Linked DNA regions of Homo sapiens. The main gene of each other region encodes a partner of the protein of the gene in region 3 in a complex. Each region holds a gene or a part of one and is shown on either strand. Other genes may lie near its edges. The genes, in order: MED25, MED20 and MED13L.

Region 1 (3,647 bases), on a different chromosome or scaffold from region 3:
GCCCCAGGAGGTCAAAATGAGTGAATGTTAACAGCATCCGGCCATGACCAAGGGCTCCCTACACACGGCCTGTCACCCAGGCAAACTAGTTCCATGAGGGCCAGGACCTTGCCTATCTCATGCCCACTAACTCCTTGGTGCCCAGGACGATTTGTTCCACAAACATTTGTTGAATTAATGAGTGAACATATGAATGAACAACTGAGTTGTCATAATGTTATGGGAAACACACTGGGTCTATTTTCCTTCCACCTCTTTTTTTTTTTTTTTTTTCCCGAGACAGGGTCTCGCTCTTTCACCCAGGCTGGAGTGCGGTGGCACAATCTCGGCTCACTGCAACCTCTGCCTCCCAGTCTCAGTTGATCCTCCTACCTCAGCCTCCTGAGTAGCTGGGACTACAGGTGTGCACCACCATGCCTGGTTAATTTTTTCTATTTATTTGTTGTTTTTGTATTACATACTAATTCATTTATTCAGCCAGTCTCCTGAAGCCCCGTGGGTGCCAAGCCCCAGCTGGAAGCAAATGGCAGAAGCACCCAGGGACCTGGACATTCACAGTCCAGAGGTGTGGGGCTGTGACAGGTCATGGAGGCAGAGGAGGAAGCATCTGGCTGCAAGAATCGGGAAGGTTTCCCAGGGTATAAGACACCTGAGCTGGGTCTGGAAGGCTATGCAGTGTCTTCCAGGGTGGTTAGTATTAAATGCATTCTGGACATTCATTCTACAGAATTTACCCGAGGCCTCCTGTGTACCAGGCCCTGTGCTGGCTGCCAGGCACTTGAGGAGCATCAGACTTGGACCTGGGCCTCAAGAAGTCTCCATTTAACATCACTCAAGACTGTCTTACCGGTCTCTCCCAGTGGTCTCAAATGGAATACATTTTGCGCCCCCTTCCCAGAGGATATTTTATAATGCCTGGAGACATTTTTGGTTGTCACACCTTTGGGAGGGGGCTACCGGCATCTAGTGAGTAGAGGCCAAGGATGATGTTAAACATCCTACAATACCCAGGACGGCCCCCACTACAAGGAATGACTGTGTCCACAGTGTCACTAGGGCCAAGGATGAGAAACCCTGCTCTGTGTTACCTACGAATTCCAGCTACCGCGAAGGGGAAGCTTCTGTGTCACCTTTTCACTATATGTCCTGCACCCAGCACTTGCACGCACATACTGGAACAAAGCAGATACTCAACAAACACCTGCTGCAGAAGCATACAGAGGTAACGGCCGCTACGAACAGGTGTTGTTTAATGAACCTTGACTGCAGACCAGGCCCTAAGCGACACACAGCAAGCAACTTAGCTCCTGTGATCTTCTAACAACACGGAGATACACGCGACCATTATCCATTTGCAAACCAGGAGAGTGAGGCACAAAATCCTAGGAAACACTTACACGGCACTTAATACATGCCAGGCACTGTATTAAACATCATCAACTAACTTAATTCTCCAAACATCGCTGTGAGGTTGCGGTACCCAGCCCCCAATACAGCACCCAGCAATCCAGCCTCTTGCTATTTACACACTGGGTAGTCTCCTCCTACACTGAACGGGATAGGCTTATACTGCACACCAAATGCAGTATGGCAGAAGTGGACTTGGCACCGCAGCTCAGGCCTGTGATCTCAGCACTCCAGCACTTAGGGAGGTCAAGGCAGGAGGATCGCTTGAGGCCAGGAGTTCAAGACCAGTCTGAGCAACACAGCAAGACCTCATCTCTACAAGAATTAAAATAAAGAAATCAGCCATGCATGGTGGTGCCCACCTGCAGTCCTAGGTACTCAGGAGGCTGAGGTGGGAGGATCACTTGAGCCCGAGAGGTCGAGGCTGCAGCAAGCTATGATCCCACCACTGCACTCCAATCTGGGCAACAGAGCAAGACCCTGTCTCAGGTTAAAAAACAGAATGTAGGCCAGGCGCGGTGGCTCACGCCTGTAATCCCAGCACTTTGGGAGGCCGAGGCGGGTGGATCACAAGGTCAGGAGACCGAGACCATCCCGGCTAACACAGTGAAACCCTGTCTCTACTAAAAATACAAAAAATTAGCTGGGTGTGGTGGCGGGCACCTGTAGTCCCAGCTACTCAGGAGGCTGAGGCAGGAGAATGGCGTGAACTCGGGAGGCGGAGCTTGCAGTGAGCTGAGATCGCACCACTGCACTTCAGCCTGGACAACAGAGCGAGACTCTGTCTCAAAAAAAAAAAAAAAAAAAAAAAAAGAATGTAACAGAAATAATGACATGACGTGTAACTTCCAAGACTTGATTACAAAGAGCCTAGTGGGGCCTCTGGGTGCAGCATCTCATGCCTCTAATCCCAGCACTTAGGGACACTGAAGTGGAGGATCACTTGAGACCAGGAGTTCAAAACCAGCCTGGGCAACATTGCAGGACCTTGTCTCCACAAAAAAAACAATTTTTTTTTGAGACAGGGTCTCAGTCAGTCAGTCACCCAAGCTGGAGCGCAGTGGTGCGATCTCTCCACCTCCTGGCTTGAAGTGATTCTCCTGCCTCAGCCTCCTGAGTAGCTAGGATTACAAGGCACATGCCACCACACCTGATTAATTTTTGTATGGTTTTTTTTTTTTTTTTTTTTTTGAGACAGAGTCTTGCTCTGTTGCCCAGGCTGGAGTGCAGTGGTGCAATCTTGGCTCACTGCAAACTCCGCCTCCTGGGTTCACGCCATTCTCCTGCCTCAGCCTCCCGAGTAGCTGGGACTGCAGGTGCCTGCCACCGCGCCCGGTTAAATTTTTGTATTTTTAGTAGAGACGGGGTTTCACCGTGTTAGCCAGGATGGTCTCCATCTCCTGACCTCATCATCCACCCGCCTCAGCCTCCCAAAGTGCTGGGATTACAGGCGTGAGCCACCACGCCTGCCCAATTTTTGTATTTTTTGTAGAGACGGGGTTTCACCATGTTGGCCAGGCTGGTCTCGAACTCCTGACCTCAGGTGATTCGCCCGCCTTGGCCTCCCAAAGTGCTGGGATTACAGGGATGAGCCACCGTGCCCCGCCACTACAAAATTTTTTTTTTTTTTTTTTTTTGAGACAGAATTTCACTCTTGTTGCCCAGGCTGGAGTGCAATGGTGTGATCTCGGCTCACTGCAACCTCCACCTCCCAGGTTCAAGCAATTCTCCTGCCTCAGCCTCCCAAGAGCTGGGATTACAGGCATGCGCCACCATGCCCAGCTAAGGCCTGTAATTTCAGCACTCCAGCACTTAGGGAGGTCAAGGCAGGATGATTGCTTGTATTTTTAGTAGAGGCAGGGTTTCACCATGTTGGACAGGCTGGTCTCGAACTCCTGACCTCAGGTGATCCACCTGCCCCAGCCTCCCAAAGTGCTGGGATTACAGGCGTGAGCCACCACGCCCGACCTACAAAAATATTTTTAAGAAATCAGCCAGGTGTGCTGGCATTTGGCTACCGTCCCTGCTACTCCAGCTACTCGGGAAGCTGAGATGGGAGGATCGCTTGAGCTTGAGCCCAGGAGGTCGAGGCTGCAGTGAGCCGTGACTGAGCCACTGCACTCCAGCCTGCGTGACAGAGTGAGACCCTTCCTCAAAAACAAGAGAGGCCTGGGGCTTCCTCTTTGCTCTCTCTATTGGGTCCCTCAATCTGAGGAATGCCAGTTGCCATGTTAGACAGT
Region 2 (4,314 bases), on a different chromosome or scaffold from region 3:
AGAACCCAAGTAAGGATACTGTGGCCAGAAGGCCACTATTCAATTGTGTCAAATATTGCTTTAGATGAGATCTGAGAAACGGATGAAGCACCTCAGAGGTCAACACTCCCTCCCTAGTGAGAAAACATCAGACGTCTTTCAATTCATCTCTCTCGCTCTTTGGCTGCTAAACAATGTGTTTTCTGCTCATAACACTTCCCATTCGTTTTTCAGTTCTCAGCTTAAAGGTCCTGCTGCAATCGGAGAAGCTTCTCAAGACCAATGCTATTGTTACCAGGGAAACGATACTTTATCATGGAAATATATTATTCTAAGAGTCTACTTAATTGCCTCTCTGCTGGGCTTGACTGTAAGGTCCTTAAGTTAGACGTGCCTGTGTTGTTTACTTCTGTACCCAAACATTCGATAGAATTCCGAGCATAGCGCAAAGCTCGTAGTGGGTATCCCATAAATATTTACAAAACCAATGGATACATGCTAGGAGCACTTAGTGGCGCGATCGATTACTGTTGGCCTAACTTCGGGGGTGTCTAGAAGGGAGTGCCTAAAACTAGGAGTGGACGCGGAGGGCTCTAGACAGGGTTCAGTCTCCTTTGCAAGTGTAATACGGACCCCTTTGTTGACTCGAAGCAATTCCCCTGCCAGACACTTTTTAGCTGCCCACCCCGCCCCACTACTGGCCACTGTCTTCCTCGGACCTCATCCCAGACACTCACCCAGCCGCGTGGTGCGTTCCCGCGGCGCCGCGGGCTTGTCCCCAGTCCCATGCTCGGCCTCGAGTTCCTCCTGTTGCTGCCGTGCTTGCTGCAAAATCCGTCGGCTCAGCCGGGGCCCCACATACTCTTCCTCCGCTTCTCCTGTCCCGCGACCCCGCCGCTTCTCCCGGACCCCCGCCCGCACCGCATTCCCAGCCAGGATCTGATCGGCCAGGGGCGCATGTTTTTCCTGACCCCCCACCCCACGGGCCGCCTTGAATTTGGGCATTTTTCTCGAAAAAGTTGCCGGGAAGGATCGCACGTGGGGACTGAAGAAAGGCCAGGATGCGCTTGCGCGGTGGACTCCCAGCGCCCAAGAGGCCGCCCGGCGATCACAGCGCCCCCTAGCATTCGGAGGCCAGAAGCGCCATCAGCGCCGCCCCTCCCACTAAAAGAGCTCCCGGGTTCCGGAGCTGGACTCCCGAATATATTCACTGCCTTTAACGTTAGCTTCTCTCAATAGTGCAGTCTTTGAGTGTCGCTCTCCTAGCTTCATGGATGTAGGCCTAGAGTGCTCAGCCAAACGGGAATGTCTGGATTTAGAAACCTCGGGGCGGGAATCCGCAGATGATGTCAGTGGAGGCGTCACCGAGGGGTGCCGAGACACGCCCCATTCCTTGGGGAAGGCGTGGACCCGGCGCTCTGTTTTTACGTATTTCCGGAGTCCCTTCTGAGACAGAAGGTTGTGTTGGGGAACTGAAGGAGTTTCTGTGGGCGGACAGGGAACCCTGCGTTTCTACTGTGTGATTCTGCCACCTTCCTGGCCCGACGCCATGGGAGTGACTTGGTAGGACTGCAGGGGGTTTTGTGGGGCGGGGCTTGGAGTTGTGAAAGGCCGGAAAGAGGACCTTGACCATGGTCCGCCGTCCTCTGGGAGCTGAGGGAGATGTCCTCGGGTTGTGTAGATGAGAGGATGCCGTCCGGGCTGCGGGTTCCCCGGGCTTGTTTCCTCAGAGATGCGCCCCTTCCTCTTGGAAGGCGGGAAAGCAAAGGTTTTTTTTTTGTTTTGTTTTGTTTTTTTTAAGACGGGGTCTCGCTCTGTCGCCAGACTGGAGTGCAGTGGAGCGATCTTGGCTCACTGCAACACTCCGCCTCTTGGGTTCAAGCGATTCTCCTGTAGTCCCGAGTAGCTGGGACTACAGGCGCCCGCCACCACGCCCGGTTACTTTTTGTATTTTTAGTAGAAATGGGGTTTCACCATATTGGCCACGCTGGTGTCGACAAAGCAAACTTTTTATCCCAGGAACCTATCAATGGTTGTATACCTCATTCTCTTCTGGATACATCTTCCTTCCCGTGAGGCCATAGTACTGCCTGCAGTGGGACCTCAGGGTTGGAAATAGGGTCTTTGGACTATGACCCACCTGCAGACAGGGTTGGAGGGAGTGGGCCATAAGCAATCAGGAGATAGTATTTTTTAAGATTTTCGCCTGCTCTTCCCTCAGCCATCAAATACAGTTAGACCCGCTTGTGTCTGTTTCTAATTTGCTCATTTTAAGATCTTGGGTCTAGAGGAAAAAAGGGTATTGATAATAAGGAGATCATGGTTCCAGGCACTTTATCTCTTTAGGACCCGTTTCCCACTATGTTTAATTCCATGGTTGGTCTAGTTTCAATGGAGTTTTTATCTTTCATATGTTTTAAGTCTCAGTTGAAAGAAGATGAGGTGGCAGGGAAAGGTATGGGTCCAGTGCTCGTGGAGGCGTTAGTTGTAAGGTGCCAGGTCCCAGAACATTTTTTTCTTATCTCAGTAGATGTGAGCATTTTTCCCGTGGGAGAAATCCGGAGGCCAGGATATTTGAAGCCAGTGGATATAGGCTTCTCATACAAAAGCATGTGTAGGGGAAATACTTTTCCTCCTGGTAGCCCAGGTTCTTGCAGGTTTCTCAGTGATTGCACTCTTGCTTCCTACGATTGACACGATCCTCCTGTGTTCCTTAATGGAAGCAAGATATGTGAGGAATGGAAATGGAAAGGATGCAGCGTAGAACCCTGGAACCCTTGCTCTTTCTTTTTTTTAAAGAAATAGAAATGGGGTCTTGCTGTTTTGTACATGCAGGTCTTGAATTCCTGAACTCAAGCGAGCCTCCTGCTTTGGTCTCCCAAAGTATTGGCATTATAGACATGAGCCACCGTGCCCAGCCACCCCTGCTCTTTAAATGGAGAAGGCAGCTCCAGGGAAAGGGCTCTCTGTTGGCCCCCTTATCAACGTTTTCAGAATCCTAGGACTTCTGTCACTTGTAGCGTCAGTTTAGGGATTCTTTTGTATTTCAAAATAAGGCACATTAGCAACATCGTTTATCAGTGTTTTTTTCTGATAGAGTAGTGACAATTTTTAGCAACAGAAGGACTCTACCTTAATAGATTCATTTAGTTGATCATAAAGCAATGTCATCTATGACTGTTTTCTTGATTTCTATATAGCTAAGTACTGCTTGTACTATTGTTTATTAATTTTTTAATCGATTTTCCTTAATGTTTTAACAGGCACTACATCCTTATACAGGCAGTCTAGTTAGTGGTTAAGAGCATGGACATCAAGCCAGGTTGCTGGGCTTTGAGTCTTGAGTGTACCACCCATTAACTGTGTGACCTAGTGCAAGTTATTTAACCTCTTTGTGCTGTACTTAAGTTTCCTCTTTTTTTTTTTTTTTTTTTTTTTTGAGGCAGAGTCTCACTCTGTTGCCCAGGCTGGAGTGCAGTGGCGTGATCTCGGCTCACTGCAAGCTCCGCCTCCCGGGTTCATGCCATTCTCCTGCCTCAGCCTCCCGAGTAGCTGGGACTACAGGCGCCCACCACCATGCCTGGCTAATTTTTTTGTATTTTTTTTTTTTTTTTGAGACGGAGTCTCGCTCTGTCGCCCAGGCCGGACTGCGGACTGCAGTGGCGCAATCTCGGCTCACTGCAAGCTCCGCTTCCCGGGTTCACGCCATTCTCCTGCCTCAGCCTCCCGAGTAGCTGGGACTACAGGCGCCCGCCACCGCGCCCGGCTAATTTTTTGTATTTTTAGTAGAGACGGGGTTTCACCTTGTTAGCCAGGATGGTCTCGATCTCCTGACCTCATGATCCACCCGCCTCGGCCTCCCAAAGTGCTGGGATTACAGGCGTGAGCCACCGCGCCCGGCCATTTTTTTGTATTTTTGGTAGAGACGGGGTTTCACCGTGTTAGCCAGGATGGTCTTGATCTCCTGACCTCGTGATCTGCCCGCCTTGGCCTCCCAAAGTGCTGGGATTACAGGCGTGAGCCACCGTGCCTGGCCAAGTTTCGTCTTTTTTTTTTTCTTTTTGAGATGGAGTTTCGCTCTTGTTGTCCAGGCTGGAGGGCAGTGGTGCGATCTTGGCTCACTGCAACCTCCGCCTCCTGGTTTCAAGTGATTCTCCTGCCTCAGCCTCCCATGTAGCTGGGATTACAGGCGCACACCACCATGCCTGGCTAAGTTTTGTATTTTTGGTAGAGACAGGGTTTCACCATGTTGGCTAGGCTGGTCTCGAACTCCTGACCTCAAGTGATCCGCCCACCTCGGCCTCCCAAAGTGCTGGGATTACAGGCGTGAGCCAC
Region 3 (3,647 bases):
AGTCAGTGAGAGCTGCAGTCCCTCATAGCTGCATGGGACAGGCGGTGTAATACATTGGATTCAGTTAGGCAGTGATAGGCATTTATAGTTGCCTTTGCTTCCTGTTCAGAGCAGGCACTTCATGGTGATGAAGAGAGGTCAGATCTTGGGGGTGGATAGTTAGAAGACAGTGTCTGGAACTCTTAAAGCACCTCACATTGAAAACACTTTTTATGCTTCCTGAGATAGATTATGTATTTTTGTTTGTTTATTCGAGATGGAGTCTCGCTCTGTCACCCAGGCTGGAGTGCAGAGGCGTGATCTCAGCTCACTGCAAACTCCGCCTCCTGGGTTCATGCCATTCTCCTGCCTCAGCCTCCCAAGTAGCTGGGACTACAGGCACCCGCCAGAATGCCCGGCTAATTTTTTGTATTTTTAGTAGAGACGGGATTTCACCGTGTTAGCCAGGATGATCTCGATCTGACCTCATGATCTGCCTGCCTCAGCCTCCCAGAGTGCTGAGATTACAGGCATGAGCCACCGATTATGTGTTTTTTTAAAAATGGACTAGAACATAAATGACATAGTTGAGAAGTGCATTCCAGAAGTGTGTATTAATCAAGCCACAGGCATTCTTCATCTACCTTGAGAAAATATACAGGCCTTTTCTAATGTTTTCTAACTCTTAAATGGTTAGGAAATGATAGGAAACTATATATTATAGATTAATGTATAATTATAGTTATGGATAAAAATAAAGAACCTGATCAACATAAATTTGGCTTCCAGGCCCCCTAGAGCAGGGGTCCCCAACCCCCGTCCATGCCTTGTTAGGAACCAGGCCCCACAGCATGCGGTAAGTAGCAAGTGAGCGAGCATTACAGCCTGTGCTCCGCCTCCTGTCAGGCAATGACATTAGATTCTCATAGGGGCACAAACCCTATTGTGAACCGCACATGCAAGGGATCTAGGTTGTGTACTCTTTATGAGACTCCTAATGATTTAAGGTGGAACAGTTTCATCCTGAAACCATCCCCCACCACGTGGAAAAATTGTCTTCCACGAAACTGGTCCCTGGTGCCAAAAAAGGTTGGAGACTGCTGCCCTAGAGGAACACTGTCCAATAGAAATACAATGTGAACCTCAAATCTAATTAAAATTTTTCTGTTAGCCACATTAAAATAGTAAAAAGAAACTGGTTAATTTTAGTAATATATTTTATTTAACTCAATATACTCAAAATGTTATTTCAACATGTAACAATATAAAAATATTCATGAAATATTTTACATACTTTTCTTTTTTTCGTTTTCTTTTTCTTTTTTTTTTGGAGACGGAGTCCTGCTCTGTCACCCAGGCTGGAGTGCAGTGGCATGATCTCACTGCAACCTCCGCCCACAGGTTCAAGCAATTCTCCTGCCTCAGCCTCCCAAGTAGCTGGGATTACAGGCATGCACCACCACGCCTGACTAATTTTTGTATTTTTAATAGAGATGGGGTTTCACCATGTTGGCCACCTGGTCTTGAACTCCTGACCTCAGGTGATCCACCCCCACCTCGGCCTCCCAAAGTTGCTGGGATTCCAGGCGTGAGCCACTGCACCTGGCCCCTAAGTGTTTGGGCTCCAGTGCCTACTTTACCTGCAGTCCACGCAAGTTCCTACTGGCCTCACTGGCGGAGCTCAATGGCCATGTGTGGCTGCTGGCTACTGTACTGGATAGTCCATATCTAGAAGGAAGGAGGAACATGAGACAAAGGATGAGGGAAAGAGCCTGGGGCAAGTTAAGGAATGCCTTTGAGACCTCCTTCCTGCTAAGATCTGGAATGTATTAGAATCTGAGAACCAGCCTTCCCTCTTGAGGCTCACGCCCCTGCTCTGTGTGTTCTCTTTGGCAGGTTTGTTTTGGAGCAGTACAACGCTCTGTCCTGGCTCACGTGCAATCCGGCCACCCAGGACCGTACTTCCTGCCTTCCCGTCCACTTTGTGGTGCTCACTCAGTTGTACAATGCCATCATGAATATACTTTAATTGGAAAAGCACTTGTTCTCTCTGGCTCAGTTCCTTCTCCCTGCAACCTCAGTCCAAGGAACCTGCTACACTCTGCAAATAACCCACATCCTTTTCTTCAGACCACTCTCCACAGTCCTGCACTGTGATTCCTTCTCAGCAGGCACATGTCAATTCTGCAGTGTTCATTACCAGAGTGACTCCTTGACACTTCTCTCATGGACCTGGAAACTTCCATAAGTGGTGACTTTCAGCCAGTGCGGTGGTGTGTGTAGCCCCAACCACTGGTCCCCAGGAAGTGGTGGTGGTTGATGGCTTTTCAGCGGGAAACAGAAGAGACAGTGTCCTTTTGCACAAGAGTCTGTGTTTTCAGCCTCTGTATACAATTGAGGGCAGTCTAGCCCTTTGGATGAAATCCTCTTAGTTACTGGTGTATGGCCTGTGGGTTACCTGAACTCCATAATCTGGGACTTTTTAAAAATAAGAACCAGCTCAAGTACATGGTTTCATACTGGGGTTTCTGTCTCCCTAGTGTTCCCATCCAGATTAGCATGAGTGCTTTGGTTGACTTCAAACCTGTGTGTCAATGCAGAAGGTCTGGAGACAGCTTCATTTTGTTTATTTATTTTAATTTGTTTTGTCATATGGTTTTTGTGACTTTATTTTTTTAATTCACAAGGACCAGGTACAGTAGCTGAAACCCAATTCAGATCCACCATAGGATTCTTTGACTACATACCTCTGTCCTAGAAGCCGGAAAAGGAGTAAAAACACATTGGGGAGATCATGCCTAAAAGTAATATATTCAAAACCACCCAGCAGTAGGTTTTGTTAACAACAAACTGGATTTTAAAAGTTCTGCCATGTTAAGTGGCCAGCATTTCATGAAGGATAACATTTTTATACAGAAGGCAGTCAAGCTCAACTCAGAGCCATGGAGGCAAGTACCTTAATTAGTTTTATATAGTCACAACGGAAATATATTTTCTAGTGAATTCTTATTGGAAGCCAGGTCTCTCCTCTCATTAGATCAAAAGGGACTTATGTACATACAACAATTGAAAGTGTTTGCTCATGAAATCAGTTATAAATATGGTGAATTTTTTCTGGACCATAGGAATATTATTTCAAAGAAATATTACAACTTAACCATTAAATTAGTACTTGAAGTTGAGCCTTTGTGGTGGGACTTTTTAAAAAAATGCCTTTTTAAAGCATTAATGGCTAATTGAAGTATTTTATGACTCCTCATTCCTGGCCCAGAGGGTTGTCTTTGAAACCCTGTTTCTAACCCTTGTGTTGTGTGTTTCTGTCTGAGGACAGTGGGTGTGTACTGGCCTCCCGGGAGCCACTGTGACCAGGCCTTTGAGCTCTTGTCATCTGTGGAGAGAATCATGCAAATTTTAAAAGTTCTTCCAAGAGACTTCCATGTCCTGGTTATTAACAAAAAAGGAAAAATGTAATAATTGATATGATTTTGTAAAAGTATTTTTCTTGAAATAATCTAAAGTTTAAAACATTATATTAAAAAAAAAGTTGTGTGGTGGGAATGTGAAAGCAGAGAAATAACTTGTAAATGGATAATTTTGTTCTCTGTACCACCAGTTGAAGGGGGGGTTGACTTTCGCAATGTATAGGATAAAAAATCTGATATATCAAA

What was found.
Region 1: MED13L (region 3) and MED25 share a complex: the UniProt entries of both Homo sapiens proteins name them as parts of the mediator complex.
Region 2: MED13L (region 3) and MED20 share a complex: the UniProt entries of both Homo sapiens proteins name them as parts of the mediator complex.

The regions. Positions count from the first base shown.
Region 1 is NC_000019.10:49,821,214-49,824,860, reverse strand, and holds part of MED25 (mediator of RNA polymerase II transcription subunit 25), read right to left. Parts: intron 1-3,647. UniProt on the Homo sapiens protein: Component of the Mediator complex, a coactivator involved in the regulated transcription of nearly all RNA polymerase II-dependent genes.
Region 2 is NC_000006.12:41,918,233-41,922,546, reverse strand, and holds the start of MED20 (mediator of RNA polymerase II transcription subunit 20), read left to right. Parts: upstream 1-1,407; 5' UTR 1,408-1,528; coding exon 1,529-1,542; intron 1,543-1,603; exon of another isoform or gene 1,604-1,747; intron 1,748-4,314. Other genes in the region: BYSL (bystin), read right to left, coding at 717-984. UniProt on the Homo sapiens protein: Component of the Mediator complex, a coactivator involved in the regulated transcription of nearly all RNA polymerase II-dependent genes.
Region 3 is NC_000012.12:115,959,627-115,963,273, reverse strand, and holds part of MED13L (mediator of RNA polymerase II transcription subunit 13-like), read left to right. Parts: intron 1-1,875; coding exon 1,876-2,008; 3' UTR 2,009-3,647. UniProt on the Homo sapiens protein: Component of the Mediator complex, a coactivator involved in the regulated transcription of nearly all RNA polymerase II-dependent genes.